Linked DNA regions of Homo sapiens: all the other regions are linked to region 3. The links come from fine-mapping of genetic effects on gene expression. A gene starts in region 3. Each other region holds a variant in brackets. All regions are shown on one strand. Distances are between the middles of the regions.

Region 1 (8,185 bases), 25 kb before region 3:
TTTGCTCGTCCATATTGTCCTTCTGTTGCCCAGACTTCAGGATTAATTCCTTCCTCAAGCAGGGGAAAACAAATGGGTGTTCCTTCTCCTATGTTCAGGTGTCTAATGGCCCTTGCTTTTGCTAGAATGTCTCCCCCTAACAAGGGAGTGGGGCTTTCAGGCATAATTGGAAAAGCATGTGAAAAGAGTAAAGTTCTCCATTTACAACTTAGTGGCTGGGAGAAGTATCTAGTGACTGGCTGTCCTAGGACCCCTCGGATAGTGACAGATCTGGAGGACAGTTGTCCGGGACAGGAGAGTAAGACTGAGAAGGCCACGCCAGTGTCCAGGAGACAGTTAACCTCCTGGCCCTCAATGGTCAAGCATACCCAGGGCTCTGTGAGGGTGATGGCATGGGCTGGCGCTTGCCCTGGGCACCCTCAGTCCTGCTGCTGGATCATCTGGTTAGTGGCTTCTGACTCAGAGGACCTTCGTCCCCTAGGGCAGTGGGCCTTCCAGTGATTCCCTTGACATAAGGGGCATGGACGAGGGGGCGGCTTACTTCTACTTGGACAATTTTTTTAAAGTGCCCTTGTAGACCACACTGGAAGCAAGCCCTGTTAGGCATTTGATTTGCCCAGCTTTTCCCTTTCCCAGAGCCTCCAAAGTCTGCTTGCCTGAGGGCCATGACTAAAGCGATGGCCTTTTCTTTATCCCGTTTGTCCCGTTCCGCCTGCTCCTCCTGATCTCTATTATAAAAAACCAAGGTTGCCAAGTTCAATAGGGTTTCTAAGTTTTGCTCCGGGCCTAAGGTGGACTTTTGAAGTTTTTTTCCCAATGTCTGCAGCTGACTGAGTGATAAACTTATCCTTTAGGATTAGTTGGCCTTCAATAGAGTCAGGTGACAGGGAGATATGCTTCCTCAATGCCTCCCTTAGTCTCTCCAGAAAGGCAGTAGGATTTTCTTCCTTTCCCTGTGTTATAATGGACATCATTGAATAATTTGTAGGCTTAGGCCCAACAAGGACTCCAAAAAATTGTTAAGGACCTAAAATCGCAAGGCCTAGTAAAACCATGCAATAGCCCCTGCAATACTCCAATTTTAGTAGTACAGAAACCCAACGGACAGTGAAGGTTAGTGCAAGATCTCAGGATTATCAGTGAGGCCGTTGTCCCTCTATACCCAGCTGTCCCTAATCGTTATACTCTGCTCTCCCAAATACCAGAGGAAGCAGAGTGGTTTACAGTCCTGGACCTTAAGGATGCCTTTTTCTGCATCCCTGTACATCCTGACTCTCAATTCTTGTTTGCCTTTGAAGATCCTTCAAACCCAACGTCTCAACTCACCTGGACTGTTTTACCCCAAGGATTCAGGGATATCCCCCATCTATGTGGCCAAGAATTAGCCCAAGACTTGAGCCAGTTTTCGTACCTGGACACTCTTGTCCTTCGGTTCATGGATGATTTACTTTTAGCCGCCTGTTCAGAAACCTTGTGCCATCAAGCCAGCCAAGCACTCTTCAATTTCCTCGCCACCTGTGGCTACAGGTTTCCAAACCAAAGGCTCAGCTCTGCTCACAACAGGTTAAATACTTACAGCTAAAATTATCCAAAGGCACCAGGGCCCTCAGTGAGGAACGTATCCAGCCTATACTGGCTTATCCTCATCCCAAAACCCTACTAACTGTTGGATGTGCCTCCCCCTGCACTTCAGGCCATACATTTCAATCCCTGTACCTGAACAATGGAACAACTCCAGCACAAAAATAAACACTACTTCCGTTTTAGTAGGACCTCTTGTTTCCAATCTGGAAATAACCCATACCTCAAACCTCATCTCTATAAAATTTAGCAATACTATAGATAGAACCAACTCCCAATGCATAAGGTGGGTAACTCCTCCCACAGGAATAGTCTGCTTATCCTCAGGAATATTTTTTGTCTGTGGTACCTCAGCCTATCGTTTGAATGGCTCTTCAGAATCTATGTGCTTCCTCTCATTCTTAGTGCCCGCATGACCATCTACACTGAACAAGATTTATACAATCATGTTGCACCTAAGCCCTGCAACAAAAGAGTGCCCATTCTTCCTTTTGTTATCGGAGCAGGAGTGCTAGGCGGACTAGGTACTGGCATTGGTGGTACCACAACCTCTACTCAGTTCTACTACAAACTATCTCAAGAACTAAATGATGACATGGAACGGGTCACCAATTCCCTGGTCACCTTGCAAGATCAACTTAACTCCCTAGCAGCAGTAGTCCTTCAAAATCAAAGAGCTTTAGACTTGCTAACTGCCAAAAGAGAGGGAACCTGTTTATTTTTAGGGGAAGAATGCTGTTATTATGTTAATCAATCCGGAATCGTCACCGAGAGAAAGTTAACGAAATTCGAGATCGAATACAATGTAGAGCAGAGGAGCTTCAAAACACTGGACCTGGGGCCTCCTCAGCCGATGGATGCCCTGGATTCTCCCCTTCTTAGGACCTCTAGCAGCTATAATATTGCTACTCCTCTTTGGACCGTGTGTCTTTAACCTCCTTGTTAAGTTTGTCTCTTCCAGAATCGAAGCTGTGCAACTACAAATGGTTCTTCAAATGGAGCTCCAGATGCAGTCCACGACTAAGATCTACTGCGGACCCCTGGACCGGCCTGCTAGCCCATGCTCCGATGTTAATGACATCGAAGGCACCCCTCCCAAGGAAATCTCAACTGCACAGCCCCTACTATGCCCCAATTCAGCAGGAAGCAGTTAGAGCAGTCGTTGGCCAACCTCCCCAACAGCACTTGGGTTTTCCTGTTGAGAGGGGGAACTGAGAGACAGGACTAGCTGGATTTCCTAGGCCGACTAAGAATCCCTAGCCTAGCTCACACCCAACCAATCAGATAGTAAAGGGAGCTCACTAAAATGCGAATTAGGCAAAAACAGTAGGTAAAGAAATAGCCAATCATCTGTTGCCTGAGAGCATGGCGGGAGGGACAATGATTGGGATATAAACCCAGGCATTCGAGCCGGCAACGGCTACCCTCTTTGGGTCCCCTCCCTTTGTATGGGAGCTCTGTTTTCACTCTATTAAATCTTGCAACTGAAAAAAAAAAAATTCCTTACCATTTCCTGACCATTTAGTAAGGTAATATTTTCATCTGACTTTAAGTTGCATTTCCATTTCATCTGACTTTAGATTGCATGCCCTAATTATGGAATTCTGAAATTTGTGAATTTAATCTTTTCACTCTATCCTTACCATTGCGATTTTATGGGAGGTAGCCAGAAAGAGTTTATTCAGAGTTCATCAGACCTAGGGTTAAATCCTAGTTGTATCATTTGTTAGCTGTTTGGTGTTAAGCAAATTATTTAGTTCTGTTCTTTTGTCTGCAAAATGGTGGTAGCAAAAACATTCCTCTCTGGTTGGTGTGAGGTAATATGTAATAGTGGTATGGAAGTGCTGGGAAGGGAAGAGCATGGACCCTTTAAAGGATATGGAATGGG[C/T]GTGGGGGAAGGGAAGTGCTAGGTAGAGGAGGGCTTCGTCCCTGGCTAGGGCTCCACCCCCATGGACCTAAGTGAGGACAGGCATTTCCTGCCCAAATGTTGCATTTCCCAAGACCACCCTGGCCTGCCACAACCCCATCCTGTGCCTATAAAAACTCCCGAGACCCTAGCAGGCAGACACAGGCGGCAGGATATCAAGAGGAGCACGTCAGTGGAAGAAGACACAAGTGGCTGGATGGTGAAAAGATGTCAAGGGGAGCATGCTGGCAGAAGAGCACATCAATAGATGTTGGCATGCCGATAGGCCATCGACAGGCGGGATGAGAAGGAGGTTTGCCTGGGGCAGTTGGAGGAGATCTGGGGCTGCCCAGCGGCCAGACTCCAGGGGAAAACCATCTCCCTTCTGGCTCCCCCATCAGCTGAGAGCTACTTCCATTCAATAAAACCTTGCACTCATTCTCCAAGCCCACGTGTGATCCAATTCATCCAGTACACCAAGGCAAGAACCCAGGATACAGAAAGCCCTCTGTCCTTGAGACAAGTTAGAGGGTCTAATTGAGCCGGTTAACACAAGCCGCCTATAGGTGGCAAAACTAAAAGAGCACCCTGTAACACACACCCACTGGGGCTTCAGCTGTAAACATTCACTGCTGGACACTGCCTTGAGGTTGGAGCCCCACAGCCTGCCCGTCTGTATGCTCCCCTAGAAGTTTGTGCAGTGGTGCACTGAAGAAGCAAGCCACACTCCCATCGCACGCCCTGCAAGGGGGACAAGGGAATTCCCATTTCAACAGTGGCTGGCATAAAGCTAGTACTCAATAAATGCTAGCTTCTTTAAGACTTAAATCATATTCTTCTTCAGTCTTTGAACTTTTTCAGGTAAATGAATGACTGAATTCCAAGAGAAATATATAGTCTGCAATGCAGTAGGTACACTGAGGCAGCTGGCTAAAAATTTTACAGGGAAATTTAAGTGATATGATAAAATATAAATTGCAGTTCATGGATAAGTATATTTTAGGATTAAACAAAAAATAAGTGAATATTTCCAAACACACCATTGAAGAGGAAGCTTACACATTGTAAAATGTGTGATGTAAGGAATTAAGTGGTTTCTACTAGCTTCAAAATACCATCATTAACTGATTTAGTTATGTCATATGACATAACTGACATATGCATTAACTGATTTAGTCATGTCATATGAAACATCACATAGATTACCTGTATTAACCATGAAATAAATGTTATGATCCAGAGTTACTAAGAATGAAATGGTTGGGGGGAAAGGTGGGAAACTGCATAAGTTATTAATAAATATGAAGGTGTGTTGTGGTTTTGAATGTAATAGCAGCTGTGGTTAATATGTGATCATATTCTAAAGTAATTAGGCAATGGTTAAATAAGCCCCTTAACAAATTACAATCAATCAGAACATTCAGGAGAGAAGTCTTGTTTTTTTGACTACTTTAGATTCTGAGGCCTCTTGGAGCAGAAAGTGGCAAGTCAAATATCTCTCGAAGTAGTCAAATATTTCTTAAGTGTGGTTTGTCTCTCCAAGAAGATATCATGTGGATATCATGTGTCTCCAGAGACAACACTCTGAAAAGGACATCATTTATGTATGATTCCAGTCAGAAATGCATAACCTGAATCTAATCAACAGACAACATCAGCCAAACACACAATAAGAGATGGTGCATAAAAGAATTGGCTTTTATTCTTTAAAATATGTCAATGTCATAAAGAACAAAGATAGACTGAGACACGGTTCCAGACTGAAGGAGAAAAAAGGCATGTTATTGTAAATATAAGATGTGATCCTGGATTGAATCCTGTACGGGAAAAAAAAGTAGCTATAAAAGGCATTATTGAGACAATCAATAAAATTGGAATATGTGTTATATATTAGATATAGGTATTTTATTAATGTTAAATTCACTGAATTTAATAACTGAACAGTGGTTATGTAAAGAGAATATCCTTATTCTTAGGAAATATACACTGAAGTTTTAAAGGCTATAGAGATGATATGCAACCTACTCTCAAATAATTTAGGAAAACATTTTTATAGACAGAGACAAACATTGATAAAGCAAATATAGCAAAATATTTAAAATTGATGAATCTTAGTAAAGCATATGTGAAAAATTTGGGGTTGTTTTTCCAACTTTTCTGTAAATTTGAGATTATATCAAAATTAAAAGTTAATTTTAAAAAGTATCCATGAATCACCTGAATCAGAATACTGGAGTATTTGCTACAGATGCAGATTCATGGGACCTGCCACTGACTACTGAATCAGAAATTCAGGGAGTGTGGACAGGAGAGGTTAGAGCCTGGAAATTTTCATTTACAAAAACATTCTTGGTGATTTTAATGTATACTAAAGTTTGAAAAACATTGGGAGTGTACTTCAATTAAAAATCAGTTGTGGTGTGGTGGCTCACACCTGTAATCCCAGCACTTTGGGAGGCTGAGGTGGGCAGATCACGTGAGGTCAGGAGTTCAAGACCAGCCTACCCAATATGGTGAAACACCATCTCTACTGAAAATACAAAAATTAGCTGGGTGTGGTGACACACACCTGCAGTCCCAGCTACTTGGGAAGTTGAGGCAAGAGAATTGCTTGAACGCGGGAGGCGGAGGCTTCAGTGAGCTGAGATTGCACCACTGCACTCCAGCCTGGGCAACACAGCGAGATTCTGTCTCAAAAAAAAAAAAATCAGTTATAATGTGGCTGGGTACAGTGGCTGACGCCTGTAATCCCTGCACTTTGGGAGGCCGAGGAGGGAGGATCCCTTGAGCCCAGAAGTTCAAGACCAGCCTGGGCAACACAGAGAGACCCTGTCTCAGAAACAAACGAAAGAATCATAATTATAATGCTTTCACTGGCCAATGCATTTTCTTTTCTTTTTGAAAAAGATTTTAAAACTTGAAACCTTTTAAACTTTATTCCATTTCTTATCTTTTAAATTTTTTATCTTAAAAAGAAAAAAAAATTTTCTAATTGTCCACCTGCCCTCCTTCAAGCCAATGCATTTTCTTAGCTTAATCAACTAAATGCCTTGAAGAATACTACTACTAGCTAAAATGTATCATGTGTTTATCATGTGGTAAGAACGATATATATTTTATTCAATTCTTGCAATAATTCCTATGAATTGCTATAATTATACTCCTTACAGTTAAGGAAATGGGATTACATACATTGCCAAGGTCATATAGCTATTAAGGGATAAAGCCAGGATTGGAACCCAAGGACAATCTGACTCTAGGGCCATACTTTTGCCACTCTGCTTTTGAGCCTTGCTAGGAAACCACATGGTAAGGTTATTGGCTTTGGCTATCATAAAATTGACATGTTATTTATCTCTTTTAAAGTCAGCCTTTAATTGCATATTAAGGAAGGAAGGAGTGGTGCAGCTAATACAATGAACATTATGATAGGCATAAAATTCCCCCTGCTAATCTTCCATCCTGGTGACAAAGCCTTGGCTCTGTGACTAAGATAAGGCTATACAGCCTGTTGTTTCTTCCTGAGCACTACTATGATTTTCCCATTGCAGAACCTTAGATACTCTTCAGCCTGCAGGTACCAAGCTGGGTGAGATATGGGTATACCTTCTTTAGAGATCCACCCTTGGCACTGGAGGATTTCTTCAATGAGGTAGAATGTCATCACAGTTTTAAACTAGGAAAGGAATTGTCCCCGATGAAACCCAGGAAGTGACTTGACTAAAATAAAAAGTAAGCATTGCCCAGGGTACAGCTCAGCCTCTTTTGGTACCTCCATTCTTCTGAGGTGCAGTTCTCTGCAACAGTCATTCCACAGAGAAAAGCCTGAGGTAGCTCACTGGACTTTCAACAATAAGCCTGTGAATTGAGTTGGGTGAGCATTAGTCTCACTGATAATATGGATAGATTTGGATTGAAAACCAGCCTCCCAATTCCACAAGCCAAGCTCTTCCATAAACCACAATGCCTCCTGAATAAAAGAGATCAATACTGAAAGTTTGTTGGAATCATGACCTCATGTGCTTTCATGTGTTTGTGCAGATTGATAAGTGCAACCCTTGCAGTAAAAAGTAAAAACGTGTTTTTTCAGCGGTGGCCAGCTGAAATGTAATATATAAAGAGTTAGTAATAATTTTTGTTGAGAGATTCATCTTTTCTAATGAGAAAAATGAAAAGCTTTCGGCAAAAAACACACCACTATTTTGAAAAGATTGATGAAGCACCCCCAGCTTAGCCCCACGACAGCACAGTTGTTGTAATCCTCCATAAGAACCTTCAGGTTGCAGGTGACATAATCTTATATAAAAAATCCTAAGAAATCCACTTAAAAACCATGAGCACTAATAAATGAGTTCAGCAAAGTTGAAGGATACAAGATTAATATACATAAATTAATTATATTTCCATATGCTTGCTATGAAAACTGTGAAAATGAAATTAGGAAACCAATTCTATATACAACAGCATCAAGAAGACTAAAATACTTAGGAATAAATTTAATAAAAGAAGTATAAAACCTGTACTCTGAAAACTACAAAATATTGTTAAAGAAGACAAAAGAATGAAAAGACTTAATATTGTTAAGATGGCAATACTCCCCAGGGCACTATAGATATAACACAATCCTTATCATAATTCCATCTGGCCTCTACAGAAATCAACAAGCTGATCCTAAAATTAATATGGTAATTCAAGGGA
Region 2 (8,185 bases), 88 kb before region 3:
GTTGTATGTGGAAAGAGAAGAGAGGTCAGGGTCACTCCAAAGTGTCTGGCATCCCAAATCTGCCAATCACCAATTGTGCAACTCGAGGGATACTACTTGGGATTACCGGACCTCAGTTTCCTCATTTGTAAATTGGAGAGAGCCTCCTTGGTGGTTGTGAGGACTAAATGTTAACATAGATATAAATTGTGTAGCACATACTAGGTGCCTAAGAACAGTAGCTACCTGCTTCATTCTTGTTTCCAATACATTATTCTTTTTTTTTTCTTTTTTTGAGACAGCATCTCGCTCTGTCACCAGGCTAGAGTGCAATGGCGCGATCTTGGCTCACTGCAACCTCTGACTCCCTGGTTCAAGTGATTCTCCTGCCTCAGCCTCCCGAGTAGCTGGGATTATAGGCACACAACACCACGCCCAGCTAATTTTTGTATTTTTAGTAGAGATGGGGTTTCACCATGTTGGCCAGCCTGGTCTTGAACTCCTGACCTCGTGATCCGCCCACATTGGCCTCCCAAAGTGCTGGGATTACAGGTGTGAGCTACTGCGCCTGGCCTATTCTTCCTCTCACATGTCCCATGTCAACCTGGGTAACAATGTCCTTTTAAGATTTACAGTGTCTAATTCTACATGAAGAAAATTCTGCATTAGACACTTGTCCCAACTCTTGGACAGAGGCCTGAGTCACCATACCCAGCATCTGCCTGCTGAGAGAAGACAATACTGTATGGCCACGGGGTCCCAGCTAAGTGACGGGTCTGGCGAAGCCAGAGGGGTTGGATGGAGACAGACAACAGCCAGCTTCCTTAATTAGGGATAACCTGTAAGGTTGCTTCCAAGCCTAAGATACAATGATTTTGATTTTTTTTTCTCTGATTATTTCATTGATCCAGATAGACTAGGCAAAGTCTAGAGAGTTCAGCTGACTCACATTGAGCAATGGCTGGGCTGGGATCAGAAGCTCTGGCCTTTGAGCCATCATCACAGAGCTGGAAGAGACCTTGAGCTCATCAAAAACAGAGCCAGCTCCCAGGGGGAATTTCAAATCCATGCATACTACCAAAAAATAAAAAATAAATAAAATAAAATAAAATAAAAAACCACCATGTTCATTTTGAAAGTATTCCTGGATAATTTCCAACTCAAATAGTTTTACTATGTAAATTCCTTTGATAAAATATTTATTTGGCATCTATTCCAGGCAACAAACACACAGTGCTCTCTGAGTTATCTTTGAGCGTATTTGTTTTCTTCCCTAGTGACATTTTCTAATTGGAAATAATGAGTGGGAAGCTCTGGGCAGGGCATCTTGGCATTTGCCTTTGCTGGGTGCCAGCCTGTGTTAAATCTTCAGGCTGCCTGCCAGACACAGAATTGCGACTGGGAATGGAGCTCAGGAAATAGTGCAAAAGGAAACCAGGCAGAGGTCAGAGAGAAGAGGGCTTGAGACTGTAAATAGCATAGTGGTTAAGAGGAGCAGCGGCTGCATCAGACCTTCCCACTGACGCAGGGAGAGGATGAGGAAAGATGGAGATGTGGTGACTGGAGAGGAGGGGCGGATGGAGAGATGGAGGGGGTGTGGGCAGGAAGCAAAGAAGGGAAGCAGGAAGCTTTGGCTGGGCACGGTGGCTCACGCCTGTAATCCCAGTACTTTGGGAGGCCAAGGTGGGCGCATCATCTGAGGTCAGGAGTTCGAGACCAGCCTGGTCAACATTCCTGGTGAAACCCCTTCCCTACTAAAAATACAAAAAAATTAGTGGGGCCTAGTGACGCGTGCTTGTAATCCTAGCTACTGAGGAGGCAGGAGAATTGCTTGAACCCAGGCGGCGGAGGTTGCAGTGAGCCGAGATCATGCCATTGCACTCCAGGTTGGGTGACAAGAGTGAAACTCCATCTCAAAAAAAAAAAAGTAATAATAATAATAATAAGAAGAAGGAAGCTTCTTTGTCAGGGCCAACCCAATAGCATTTGCATTAATCAGGGCCAAACCATGGAAGCAGAACCACTGATTATTATGGACTAAGGTATTTATTATAAGAATGAGATCTTACACAATGCAGTGGGGAAAGTGGGGAAGTAAAGATCTGAAAAGGGGAGGTGAAGAATCACGAGAGTCACTGCTTGGCCTGGCGTGGGTGAACAAGGTGCAGCTTGCAGAAAGCAAGGCAAGACTGGCTGCCGTCAAGGGCCAGGTGACAAGAGGACATAGAGCCTCAAATTTGGGACCACGTTTCTTTTAAGGTATAGTTGAGAGGAAAACTGTCGGAGAGTTTCTGTTCATCAAGACTAAGTTGCAAGTGGTAGAAATTCTAAAACAAACTGACCTAAGTGAGAAAAAAAGAGAGAGTGACTTTTGGGGAAAGCTCTGGGGTAGCTCGAGGAATCAAAAGAACAATTGCCAGATGACGCCAGGAAGAGTCAGACCTGGGAACTCGACACCACAGACCCTTTCCTTGTTTCCATCTCTGTCTCTCACTGCCTCATTTCTTCTTCCTTCTGGCTGGTGGCCTTGTCCTCCCAGCCTTCTCATGTGGCACATGGGGTCATATTGATAAAGCGCCTTGACCAGAAAGGGAAGATACTTTTCCCTACAAGCTTAATTTAGAAAAATCCCTGGCTTGCTTTTTCTTTCTTTCCCTTTGTTTCTTTCTTTTTCTTTTTCTTTCTTTCTTTGTCTTTCTTTCTTTCTTTTTCTTTTTCTTTCTTTCTTTCTTTTTCTTTCTCTCTCTTTCTTTCTTTTCTTCTTTCTTTCCTTCTTCCTTTCTTTCTTGTTCTTCTTTCTTTCCTTCCTTCTTTCTTTCTTCCTTTCTTCCTTCCTTCCTTTCTTTCCTTCCTTCCTTCCGTCTTTCTTTCTTTCTTTCTTTTCTTTCTTTCTTTCTTTCTTTCTGTCTTTCTTTCTTTCTTTCTTTCTTTCTTCTTTTCTCTCTCTCTCTCTCTTTTCAGATTGATCCTTGGATGAATTCCCAGATCAATCACTGTGGCTAGGTGAGTAGGTTGTTATTACGGTTGAATCAGGGTCACATGCCCACCCCTGTGGCCGAAGAAGAGGAGGCCAGGGTCCTTTGATCAGCAGCCTCCTCACAACCAGGTGGAAGAAGAAAGGAGCAGTTCCCCCATGGAAGGAAGTTCTGTCCCCTGAAGAGCAGAAGAAGTGCTGAGCAGACACAAGTCACAGCTGTCCACTCTGGTGTCCCATGGACTGAATGAAATGTTCCTTAAATTCATTGTTCTCATTCTTACCCATTTTCTTTAATGTTATGCCCACTGCAACAAGTTTCTGAGAACATTCAACTGACATTTTAAAGAGAGATGTCACAAAGAAGGAAATACTTTGTAAAGAGTGATGCTTAGTGATCATAATCATCTTAGAGACCTAGAGAGATTGAGTGACTTGCTCGAGGCCACTCAATTATTAAAAAGGAGAAGTAGGACTTTCACAGAATATCCCCATGGAATAAATTAATAGTCTGGTTTATACAGCACTCTGGAGACTTGAGCAACTATGAATCCATCATCCAAGGCTTGATCAGATTGTTTTCCTGGACGATAAAGAGCAGACCAGGGCCAGAGTGATTACTCAGAGGTTAAAGAATAACAGACATTACTCGGAATCTGACTTCAGCATGCAACCAGGCAGAGATGATTCACGAAGTGTGTGTGTGTGTGTGTGTGTGTGTGTGTGTGTGTGCGTGTGAAATCTTCAGTGTGTGTTTAGATTGCTAGGTAAGAAAAGTAATGTAATTGAAGTCATATACATCTTTTCCAGGAAGAAAAAAGGGACTTGAGATTAGGGTTTCAGGTACCTTGAAAAAGATGGGCAATTTAATTGTTCTCTAAGTTGGCCCTTAGTTATCCACTCTAAAGAGAGCTTAAAACATGCCTGCATCTTTAGCTCACAATTTATTTCTCTTCTCCTGTTTGTCTTTTGTACTTTGTCAGTGGTTTCCACATTTGGATGTGCATCAAAATCACTGGTGGAACTTAAACAAAAGCATCCAGTCACCAGCCTGCCCCTGACCCCTACACTCACATTA[C/T]GGGCTCCTTGGAGGATTCTAGTACATAGGTGGGGCAGAAAACATCTCCTCATGCTGCAAAATGCTCTCCGGCATGCAGAGAGACTTTGTGTGCTTTATCTTGCCTGATACCCCACAACGGTGAGGACAAGGCCAGACTGGGAAAATAAGGAGACAGCAGTTAAATGGCGTTCCTAAGGTGAGGCAACTTGTAAGTAGTAGAATTAGGAGGACTAGAACCTAGATTTTGCTCCTAATTCAATCAATAAGGATGACTAGGGCTTGGTCTTGACCAACTGTGGAGGAGTAGCAGGTGAAAGAGGCATAACTAACAAGCATAGGTCTACTTTTGCAAGTAATCAATCAAAGTCATACTCTAAAGTAGCATCTAGAAATTAGCACCTTCCACAGGCCGTGCCCTTCCTAAAATGTACCATCTGTATACTCTTTCCTTGTAGAAGGTGTCTTCCTTTCTTGTTCTGGTAATGACCTTGGGAAAGTTGCTTGACTTCACTGTTCCTTGGTTTCCTCATCTATACAATGAGAGTGTTGGATTTGATTCCTTTCTGCTCTTGTGCTAGATAGTTACATTGGTTCAGTGACAAGCCCTTGGACGTCATGTGATTGCAAAGGGCTAAAAAAGAGCCCTCTGTATTCTAAGTGTCTGTTGATGCTTTGTCCAGTGGACAAAGCCTTTCAGGTTGCAACGTGGCGTAAGAAAAAGCTTAAAATGAGGCTGGGTGTTGTGGCTCACACCTGTAATGCCAGCGCTTTGGGAGGTCGAGGCGGGTGGATCACTAGGTCAAGAGATCGAGACTATCCTGGCCAGCATGGTGAAATCTCGTCTCTACTAAAAATACAAAAATTAGCTGTGTGTGGTGGTGTGTGTCTGTAGTCCCAGCTACTTAGGAGGCTGAGGCAGAAAAATCGCTTGAACTCAGGAGGTGGAGGTTGCAGTGAGCCAAGATCACACCACTGCACTCCAGCCTGGTGACAGAGCGAGACTCTGTCTCAAAAAAAAAGAAAAAGCTTAAAATGAGATAATCCCTGGAAAAGGTGGATTGTGACTCAGACTCATTCAAGTAAAAAATGAAAATGATTGACAGCAAAGGAAGGGGGAAGTGTTCAGAAAATAAAGTAGGAAGGCTGCAGATCTGTGAAGGCGAATGGGGAGATGGGGCTGAAGAACACCCTCAGGGGCTGGAGTTGACCAAAAGAGGGGTGGCAGCAGCAATGTCTGATTAATTTCAGTTTTGCCTGAGGTGGGTTGGCCCTACATGGATTATTGGATGGAAACTGGACTCTGAGCCCCTACTTCTGCCCCAGCCCATCTGGAAGGTTTTGAGACCCTTTTCCCCAAATTTTCTACTACTGAAAGCCCCATAAGGCTGAAATAGACACTAGTGTCCTAAATGGATAAAACATTGATGTTGGCCCTTGCCCACGCTGGCTGCAAGAGCTGGAAGAAGGAACCTGGAAGCTAAAAAGGGAATAGAAAGAAAGACACAAACTCATAAGAATAGTGTCAGGAAGATTAAAGTCACTACAGAGAGGGGCCTTACAAACCGTGGGCAGGGCAATAAAGAGGCCTATTAGGTGAAGTTCAGGACAAGAAGATGGACTAGTCCCATAGCTTGGGAAACAGCACAGTGATAACAAATCACAGAGACAGAGGAGCCATTCAGCTTCTAAGTGCTTATTCTTTTCCACTATTTGAGACACAGGCAAGTCTCTGAATACCCAGCTGAGCTTAGGGCCTGGCACATAGTAGGGGTACAATAAGTTTGCTCAATGAATGAAGAATGAATGGGAGGAGGCTGAAGAGAAGAAGGCTCTTCAAGCTCAACAACGAGCCCAAGGTGTTTGAAAAGGTCCTAAGAGGCATCTTTGCTGTCAACTCAATCCAAGTCAGAAGCAAAAGATCATTGTGCCAACAGTCATTGTGGTAGTGGGTTTCTTAGGAAACTACTGAGATAGAGGTTGTGTGCAAGAAGCTTATTGAGGAATGCCCTTGGGACCCACACCTATGGGGGAGTGAAGAGAGTGCAAGGGCAGAGGGATGGGTTGAACTGTGGTGTAGATGCAACAGAGGTCTCAGGCCAAACCCATGGGACAACTCTTCACAGTTGGCCCACCTTGAGACAAGGGTGTAGGAGGTTAGGTTATACTTCCTCATCAACCAGTCAATGGACACGGGCTTCACCCCTGGAGGAAACGTGAACTTGGAACACCTGAGAACTGGCAGCAGCCAACCAACACTGCCAACAGTTGAGGGAATGAGTGACTGGATCTTGAAGATGGGATGTGTGGGCTCACCACAGCACCATGGCATCCACTGCAATAATTAATCCAACTTCCTTATTTGACAGATAAAAAATGTCCAGAGATGAAATCATATAGCTGGTGAAGAGCAGAGCCAGGACATTTCTCAAATGGTCACTAGCAAATTCCCTTAGTGGACTTGGAATTTGGTAGAGGATTCAATAAATCCATCAATATGGATAAGAAGGAGAAATGGTGATTAGATCAATGGTTCCCAAACCTAGCTGTCATCAGCATCACATGGAGGGATGTTAGAATACAGATTCCGGGGCTCCATTTTCAGCAATGCTATTACTCGGGGGTCTGGGGCAAGGCCTGTGAGTCTGTACTTTTTTGTAAGTACCAGGTTATTCTTATGTGGCCTGTCTCTCACCCTGCACTTGGGAACAAGTGGCTAAGATCATAGAACACTGGTCAGATACTAGATTTTTAAACAATCTACACTTACAGACTATTACTGAATGATGTTGCTCTGGAAAATCTCAGGTGGGTGCATGGAGGCTCATTCCTGAGTTCTGTCTTATTCAAAAACTTCAACCCTAAAAAAAAGGCTGGGCGTGGTGGCTCATACCTGTAATCCCAGCACTTTGGGAGGCTTAGGTGGGTGGATCACCTGAAGTCAGGAGTTCAAGACCAGCCTGACCAACATGGTGAAACCCCATCTCTACTAAAAATACAAAATTAGCTGGGCATGGTGGCACACACCTGTAATCCCAGCTACTTGGGAGGCTGAGGCAGGAGGATCACTTGAACCTGAGAGGTGGAGGTTGCAGTGAGCTGAGATTGCACCATTGCACTCCAGTCTGGGCAACAAGAGCGAAATTCCATCTCAAAAAAAAAGAAAAATTACCAACACTCAAAGACATTAATAGGCTATAAATCCACTGAAGATAATCCCCAAACTAGAAGAGATTGCTAGTACTTTGGAGCTCAAATCAGTATTTCAACAGATTTCAACATGTAGCTTGAAGTATCATGTTGTAGGTTGATATTTCTTGACATTAAAGTTGTTCGTGATGTCTTAAATGAAAGGAAGCAGCAGAGAGGCAGTGGGATATGATGGTTTAGAGCACAGATGGTTTAGAGCATGGATCCTAATGGACTGCCCAGGTTCAAATCCCAGCCCCATTGCTTGCTCACTTGCACCTCAGGTTCCTCATCTGTAAAGTGGGGATAATAATATAAAATCATAGTACTTACTGCATCAGGTTAATGTAAGGGTTATGTGAGTTAATATGTATTTAAAAATTATAACCGCCGAGCACATAGTAAGCACGATGTAATACTATTTTTCTGTGTAGTTGTTTCAGTCATCAATTGCTGTTTTAGCAAACTATCCCAAAATTTAGTGGCTTAAAATGACAATTTACTACTTCCCATGATTCTGTGGATTGTTCTGTATCACTTGGTACTGACTGGGGCTCTGGGGCAGCTCACATTTGGTACTGGGACCATCTGGAGCTTTACTGGCGTTCTCAGCCACAGGATTCCATTCTCCTCCATGTGCGCCTCTTCACATGGCTAGTGAGTCCTCCTCACATGGTGGCTGGGCTCCGAGAGATGAAGGCAGAAGTTGAGGTCTCTCAAGACCCAGCCTTGGAAGCTACCCAGTGTTACTTCCACTTCAATCTATTGGTACAGATTAGTCTCAGGCCCAGCCTGGATACACAGGGAGTGGAAACAGACCCCACCGTTCAGTGCGGGGAGTGGCAAAGAATTAGGAGTCATTTTTAATTTACCACAGATGCTTAATCCCACTTGTGTGTGTGTGTGTGTGTGTGTGTGTGTTCATGTGTACGTGTGTCTGTGTGTTCATGTCTGCATGTGAGTGTGTGTGTGAGAGAGAGAGAGAG
Region 3 (8,185 bases):
GGATTTTTTTTTTCTTTGAGACAGAGTCTTGCTCTGTCGCCCAGGCTAAAGTACAGTGGCATGATCTAGGCTTACTGCAACCTCTGTCTCCCAGGTTCAAGCAATTCTCGTGCCTCAACCTCCCGAGTAGCTGGGATTACAGGCGGGTGCCATAACGCTCGGCTAATTTTTGTATTTTTAGTAGAGGCAGGTTTTCGTCATGTTGGCCAGGCTGGTCTCAAACTCCTGACCTCAAGTGATCTGCCTGACTCAGCCTCCCAACGTGTTGGGATTACAGGTGTGAGCCACCACACTCAGCCAAGTGTGGATGATTTGGCTCACCCTATCTGAAAAATTTTAAGGTTATAAGCCCTGGAGCATTTTATATAAAATAATTATTGACATGAATATAGAAGAGAACATCCATATATATTTCCATTTTTTGTTTGAAGTTAAAGCTGACAACAGTCAGAATGCATGACTCTTTTGGGCTGCTGATTTCAAGCCTGCAACTGTTTCCTAGCAATGTAGGGGGCCTGTGCCAAGTCATTGAAGGTTATTGCTGGTAGGGTTTCTCCCTAGACAGGAAATAGTTCACTGGAGCTTTAGTGCAGAAACCAACACAGGTAGGTAAAATGTTTTTATAATTGCCACTAGGAAAAAGAGAGGGCCCAGGGGGTACTCTTCTGCCCAAGGGAACCTCTCCCTGGTTATAACCTAATTTGTTGTGTGTATGTGGACTAGATGGGTGGAATTCAACCTTCTAAGGTATTGTGGTTATATTGCTTTCAAATGACTGGCGATTCCAAGAAATGTAAGAAATCCTCTTTCTTTTTCAAAGGACCATTCTCTTGTGGTTCAAATGTGGGCTTTTGAAACAGAAACAATAATGTCTGTGGCTATAGGGTGGGGTCTGTTCATTTCCCTCTTTTCTCTATTGGAGTGTACATGAAGGTGTTGAAATTGTTGGCTTCATGTTTGTGTTTTGATAAAGATGGCTCTAAGGTAGCAGGATAGGGGACTAGAAGCTAACTAGTCATTGAAGAAGATCCTTGTTTTCCACAGAACAGTCTACCCTGGAGAACTGGCTGTTCCAATCTTCCTGTTACAGTCATTCAGAGCATTCATACATCTCTCTGTCCATGGTGCAATAAAATAGGCTATGGAACAATCTCAGGAGGCTTCCTAAGTGGTTGAAAGGAGGCAGGGCAAAAAAATTGTAGTATAGGCAAGAGGAAGGTAAAACTAACTAAAACGAACTTCGAAATGCAAGAAATAAACACAAGCATCATCTGAAATTGTTCCCTTAAGAAGTCAGCCCTAACAGTTTCTTATCTATTATAGCAGCTGAATTATCTTGAAACTGATATTGTGGTCAGAAAGTTAAGAAGATAACCCCTCTCCTACACTCTTGGCACAAAACCAGGGCATATCTATACCTGGAACATAATGTGTTGTACTGTTGGTTGAGTTTCAAGAAAAGTCCAATGAGGTTGGAAGCAGTTAATATGAGGATATCTGAAAAGATCAAGGAGATTAGGTATTCCCTACTCCTTCCATAAGGAGGTACTGAAATGGCAGAATTCTGCAATGAGAGATGGTGATCAGCAAGCCGAGGGGACAGGCCTCAGAAGAAACCAGACCTCCCCACACTTTGATCTCTGATCTTGGCCTTCAGAACTTCGAGAAAATAAGTTTCTGTTGTTTAAGCCACCCAGTTTGCAGTATTTTGTTATGGCAGCTCTAGCTGACTAACACACATGAGAACACATATGATCAAATGATTTAAAATTATGAAGGGTCTAGAAGAGAATGTGATCATCTCAGAATACCTCTAAGTCAGGGTTTCTTAAAGCAAGGTCTGCATACTACTTGCATCAGAATCACCTATGACGCTTTTTAAAAAGCAGGTTCTCAGGTCCACTGGACCTAGATTATTAAAATGTTCTGGTATGATGCTGAAGAATCTGTCTCTTTGGTAGACACTTCAAGTGTTGTTTTTGTACACTAAAGAGCCAGAGGTCCTGCCCAACCTCTGGCTCTTTTCTGAGCCTGAAAATGAATTCTGGGCCTGGTACTAATTGCATTTCATCAAGTGCTGCTGTGTCTGGTCCTCTGGCAGATGGTCCCTGATCCAGGAATCACGTGTAAATCCCATTGTAGGTTATCTCTCTCCAGGTGTCAGCCAACGTTTACGCAGCATGTGGGAAAGCTGAATTGCATGGACCAGATGGAATCCTTAGAGTTTATTCTTGATTGTGGAAATAAATATGTACCTCACCTATCTTACTGAAGAATATAATGACATATTTTGAATAATAAAGTATATATATTATCTCTCTCATGAGATTTATTTAAAGATCTTACTACCTTGTCAATAAAGAGAGAATGCAAGGAATAGAATGGGGCATATCTTTCCTTCACCTGTGGACCTAAGAGGAACTGAAATTAGAGAAAGTTGAGAGTCCAGAGCAAACGCTGTGATGAACATTTTCAAAATAGGCAGAATAGGTGGCATTCTGATTCAAATATGGCAGTTCCCTAGGGAGTGTGAAATCTGCCCTGCCCCATCCCCTCCATTTACAAATGTGCTTAAGGGACATAAGGTTTTATAAACAGGATTTTTAAAAACTAAAATTTAGGCAGATCATTTAAGAATGCTCAAGGGGGTAGGTCAATGGACTATTTCTCTATTTTCCTTCAGGTGGTCCAGCCTTTGAACCAGAATGCAGCTATAGTATCCCAAGTGACGGGGTCTGTCTAGGAGTTCCCATGGCCACTGTTTTTTGTCTTTTCGGTTTTTCTTTTTATGGCGGGCGGGGGAGGGCGGGCGGGTGAGTACTTACTTAATGCCAGGCACTTGGTTGTTTTTTCCTTCTTGACTAACCAGATTTCAGTTTCTCTGTGTAGACCATTCATTCCCACTGAGTTTCTTGGTGGGGTGGTGGGGGCGGGGGCGATGAATGGGAAAGTGGAATTGCCATTAATGTTCCAGCTGCTTTCCTGAAACAAGACTTTTGACCGTAAAAAGAATGAATTTGAAACTCTAGACAATAATACACTGCAGAGGTTAAGAAGAAAAGCCATGAGTGCAACCGGGTTTCATTAAGAATGAAAAGTGGACATTTAGCCGTCAAGGAGACAGGTTCCTAGTTTGGGCAGAGAAGAGAGCCCTAACAATGAAAGGCGGCCGTGTTGGCTGAAAGGGGGCTCTCAACTGAAACCAAGGCACTCCTGGGGTGTGAGGATGGGTGTTCATTCCTAGATCTTTCCGAGCGGCCCTTTCCCTCAGTATGTTCTGGACTCACTGAGGTCCTGGCCGAGCGTCCAGGTAGCCCCGAGGGCCCCGACTCGCTGGCGCAGGGGTAGGGGGAGCGGGCCAGGCGGGGCAAGCGGGCCAGGCAGCGGCGGCGGCGCTTTCATTAGAGGGCGCTGTGGGAGCGGCTCCGCCGCAGTCCCGACTCCCGCCGCTTCCTCCCGCCGCCCCTCCCCGCCAGTCCGGGCGAACGCGGCCGGGCCCTTGGGGACCGAGTCTCGGCGCCGCCGGGGAACGGGCGCGGGCCGCGCCACAGCCGGAGCGGGGCAGGGCCCCGCCACCGCCTTCTTCCGCCGGCCCCGCCGCCGGCCATGCATTCTTCCGGCTCCTCTGACTCCCAAAGCCCCGGCTGGGGCCCGGCCAGCCCGAGGTAACCTCCGGCTCCGCGGTCGCAGGCCCCAGAGCGGCAGCGGAGCCGGGCCAGGGGAGGCGCTGGGGGCGGGGAAGGGGGTGTCGTCGTCGCGTGGCCCGGGGAGGCGGCAGCGGCCTGAGGGACGAGGGCGCGGTAGGCCCCGGGGAGGAGGCGGGGGCGCGGGGCATCCGCCCGCCTCCCCGGGACCCGCCCGGGTGACAGGTCCGGCCTCTGAGTCCCCGCCGTCCCTCTGTCCGCAGGCAGCCGCGAGGGGAGTAGGGCGCCAGCGCGCCCGCTCGCGCAGCGCCTCGGGCCGCTTGGGCCGCCACCGCGTCCATGACCGCGACCCCTCGGCGGGGGACACCCGCCCCCGCTCTCCGCAGCCGCCCGCCGTCCGCGCCCGCCGAGGTGAGCCCGGCGCGCGGGCCGCGCCCGCCGCCACGACCCTTCCACATCCGCGGAAACCGCTGCAGGCTCCACCGGCTCCCCGCGCTGCGGTCGCCTCTTCTCTGCCCCTTTCATCATCCCCTGCTTCCTTGCCCTCTGGTCGGAAATCTCATTCTCTTCATCCCCAGTTCCTTGGCTTTTACCTCTTTCTGGCTTTTGCTCCCTTCCCCCTACTCCTGTCCTTCCTCTTTTTCGCATTATAACCCCCTACTTTCTTCCTCTCACCTTGTAAGCTTTTTTTCTAGGCCCCCCATTTTTTTTCTTAAAAAAAAAAGGGAAACAAAAACCCTATTGCTACAAATGAGAATTTTGAGGGTAACTCTTCGCTAGAGCCAGAGACCTTTTAAAGGAATGCATCGGTGTGCAGGAATCGTGGTGGTGAGGAGACTGAGGTCCTCAGTATCTGGGAAATCTTATTGAGGGGACCCTGTTTCGGTCATGTCACTTGTGTCTTCAGTTTGGAGATCCTGAGGTTGTCTGAAGCGAGTGGATCTATTTTTCTAAGTCCAATAGACGACCGCAGTGAGACACGGTGCGGGGACGGCCACCGATTACTGAATGGGAATTGTGTTATCATTTGCTAAATATATTGTGACATACTTCGTGCCTCGGTGAACAGCTCCCTTGACCTTGTGCGGCTCCTCCTCCCTCGCTCTCTGTCCCCCTCTGGAATTTCCCCTGAGAGATCACCGAGGTACTACACCCGGAAAGCTTCGACCCTCGCTGTTTTATTTTGTGCTGGGGGCGATTTCTATGTTGGTGACTGTTTAGATGTATTTAATGAATTTTCCTTTTTAAGTGAATTTTTCTTTCACCCCAGAAAGACAGGACGGAGTCCAGTGTGAGAATGGCTATAACTTTGGAAGAAGCTCCGTGGCTGGGCTGGCTCTTGGTGAAAGCACTGATGAGGTTTGCCTTCATGGTCGTCAACAACCTGGTTGCTATTCCATCCTACATCTGCTATGTAATTATACTTCAGCCCCTTCGAGTGCTGGACAGTAAGCGGTTCTGGTATATCGAAGGAATCATGTATAAATGGCTTTTAGGAATGGTAGCTTCCTGGGGATGGTATGCTGGATATACAGGTAAGAGTGAGAACACTTTTCTTTAATGCATAAGAAAAAATTTGTCAGGAACCATGATTAAATGTATATTACACTTTGGGTTGAGGATGCTTTCATGTCTTCACTATTGAAAAAAATAAAAAGAAAACAGTTCTATTGGGTTTCTCTTCAGAATCTCAGGAAGACCAATGTTTTCAGAAGTATAATTTCATAATTATGTATTGGTAAATTTCTTAGTGTTTTTATTGTGATTGACATACATTTATTAAAACTGGTCTGCAAAAGCTCTGGTAGAGGAATAGGAGTGCGTTGTATAGGACTCGAGAGCTTATAAAGTGAAGATGTAAGATATTTCATCTATTTCATGGAAGATGCCCATAAACATTGGAAATTTAGAAAAAGAATGGGACCATATTTGTGCTAAGATAGTTTAATAAGTTTCTTCATCATTTAACGTGATATTGTACTGTTAGCCTTTTGAGCAAGCAAAAATGGCTTTCTTTTCTCTTACGTATGTTTCTTTTGTTTATTAGAATCTATATTTTATCTCATAAATCTGAGAGTATTAAATATAAAAAATTAAGTTAACTTTGTTAAGCTAATTTATCTTCTGAGTGTCTTTAAATAGATTGTGATTTCTGCCTTTAAATTGCATTTGGGGAAGCAAGAGTAACACTATTCAGAAGTGGACTTTTATAGAACTAAATGAGAAGTGTTTATTTTCTGAGATAAACCTTATATGCTTTGAGAACTTATGCCCTTGCTGTGAAAATTCTGTATCGTTTATTGTATTTATTTGATTTTTTTCCCTTAAGAATTAAGATAATGAAAAAATCATAGAGGTTTTTAGCACTTGTCAGATGTGGAGGCTTTTAGCACAGAAATTCCTACCTGATAGGCAGGCTCCTTGAAGATCATGCAGATGCTGTGGTCAGTAGAGGCTGTAGTTCATAGCTTGGCAGAGTGAGGAGGGGTACTCCCAGGGTCAAGCAGTATGGCAGTTCTCCATCTGAAATTCTGTCTCCCTCTTTCCTGCCTAGGCTGCACCTGCACATTTTATCCACACACGCAAGAGAAGGACTGATAGTATACAGCTTTTATGGAGTCTGACAGACCCTTGCTATGTCTGAGTATTCTCAGTTGCCCCAGATGAAGCCTTTTCTCCTTCAGGCAGTGGCATTTATTTATTTATTTCTCCTTCAGGCAGTGGCATAATAATGCAAGAGCTGAAGCCCCTGGGATAGTGTATGCGTTGCTTCCTTGTCATCTGTCTTGTTGAGATTCCAATGCTTTTTGGATATAGTAGGTGTGCTTCTAGCCCTTTTTTAGGACTTGGTGGTAGCAATAGCAGTGGTAGAGAAAAAACGAAGTTCTAATCTATGGTGCTGAATTCTTACCTGAATTGCACTGCTGTCTTAGAGTTGCTTGGCTTGGTATAGTTTGAGTGTTCCCAAATATATGTTATATGGTACTAGTGGCTTTATTCTTGTATAGTATACTTAAGTTTGCTTGTTTTAAATTAGCTTATAGTATTTTCAGAAACCCGTTCTAGAAGTTCATTCTGCTTAAAATGAAATTACTGAAATGTTTGTGCGTGTGTATAGTGTATTTAATTGTTAGCATGGTGGGAAGGTAAAATTAATTTGGCATTGACCTTGAGATTGGGAGTGCAGTGGTGCTGCTTGAAGTCAAAGTTAGTTGTCCTATGGCCATAGCATAGCTGCAATGTATTTTTCAGCATATTTTCTTGGGGTATCTCTTCCTTGCTGACTATAGAACTGTGTAATTTCTTTTGCCACCTGCTTGGAATGTGGTCTTGGCATGATCTGCATATTTTAGTCTCTCTGAAGCATCTGCTCTTCTTCAGGCTACTGAATTTTGACAATTTGATCAGTTTGTCTCATTTAAATATAGACTGTTTTAATGTATATATTTTAAAAGGTTTTCCTATAGGTAGAATACTTGATTTCAGAGAGCCTGGTCATAGTCTGATCATAAAAGAAAATAGTCAAGAAGTCAAACAAATGTAGGAATGAATTTGGTTGAAAGCCTCAGCTGAGTTTAAAGAAGCACATCTAAGCAGAGGTTGATGAACAGGTGTACCCATAAAATAATGTCAGGTGTTATATTAGCCTTTCTTTAGATAATATATTTCACTTCTTCCCTTTACATCAATAGGAGGGTGGGCTTGTGAAGAAGTTCTTTTTTCCCTATGCCCAAGTTTCACAGATGGAAAATTGAACATTGCCAAAGGAATTCTGCTCAGCAGATTAAGTATGTTCATGTTTTAGAATAAAAATTGCCAAAACTTTGTTGAGAAACCACTTATGAGGAAACCTTAAATACTAATTAGGAAGCTAAAAATTGAATATTGGTATATTGGTATAGAATGAATATATATATATATATATATCTTTTTCCAAATTATGACATTCCGTGTAATATGAGTGAATTACTCAGCTCTGCTGATGAGGACTTATGTTGATTATCTAACCTACACAGCCCCATATAGTAGCCACTGGCTGCATGTCACTGTTTAAATTTAAATTAATTAAAATGAAATAAAATTTAGCATTTAGCTCCTCAGGCACACCAACCACATTTCAAGTGCTCAGTACTAGGTGGCTAGTGGCTACTGTATGGACAGTGCAGATACAGAACACTTCTATCATCACAGCAAGTACTACTGGACAAAGCTGATATAGTAAGCATGGTTTTCTTTTCTTAGGAAAACTAAATTTTATTTTTATTAAAAAATCTTTCCTTAGTTCTAAACAGATTTTTTTTGTGAAAGACAAGAAGATTTATTAAAGTTTTATTAAACTATCTCTTAACTCATCACAAAAATGAGCCCTGTAAATTCATACATGCTTCTTGGATGAGTAATGGTGAGGCCAGTAAGCCCAAGAACTTAAATGAACATTCTTATACTTTAGTTTGCATTCTCAGAGCTGGGGAACTGTCTGTAGGCACAGAAGATGGAAAAGGGATTTTCTGGTCTGTTTCTGACTTTAAGTTACACATTTT

The links.
Region 1: its variant is fine-mapped to the expression of LPGAT1 in lung (TOPMed, PIP 0.95).
Region 2: its variant is fine-mapped to the expression of LPGAT1 in whole blood (INTERVAL, PIP above 0.99).

What each region holds. Positions count from the first base shown.
Region 1 is chr1:211,850,681-211,858,865 of GRCh38, reverse strand. It overlaps LPGAT1-AS1 (LPGAT1 antisense RNA 1), which reads right to left. Exons shown (of 6, transcript NR_135820.1): 4 at 7,260-7,345; 5 at 7,094-7,163; 6 at 5,163-5,304. Among named protein-coding and RNA genes, the nearest start is that of LPGAT1-AS1, 24 kb to the right of the region's middle. RefSeq lists a silencer at 3,458-3,637. The variant C/T (reference allele first, on the strand shown) is at 3,470.
Region 2 is chr1:211,913,554-211,921,738 of GRCh38, reverse strand. No RefSeq gene overlaps it. Among named protein-coding and RNA genes, the nearest start is that of LPGAT1-AS1, 87 kb to the right of the region's middle. RefSeq lists an enhancer at 4,926-5,095. The variant C/T (reference allele first, on the strand shown) is at 4,032.
Region 3 is chr1:211,826,053-211,834,237 of GRCh38, reverse strand. It overlaps LPGAT1 (lysophosphatidylglycerol acyltransferase 1), which reads left to right and starts at 3,475. Exons shown (of 8, transcript NM_014873.3): 1 at 3,475-3,665; 2 at 4,915-5,179. The coding sequence starts at 4,942. It overlaps LPGAT1-AS1 (LPGAT1 antisense RNA 1), which reads right to left and starts at 3,277. Exons shown (of 6, transcript NR_135820.1): 1 at 3,198-3,277; 2 at 2,826-2,982. RefSeq lists a silencer at 3,291-4,050.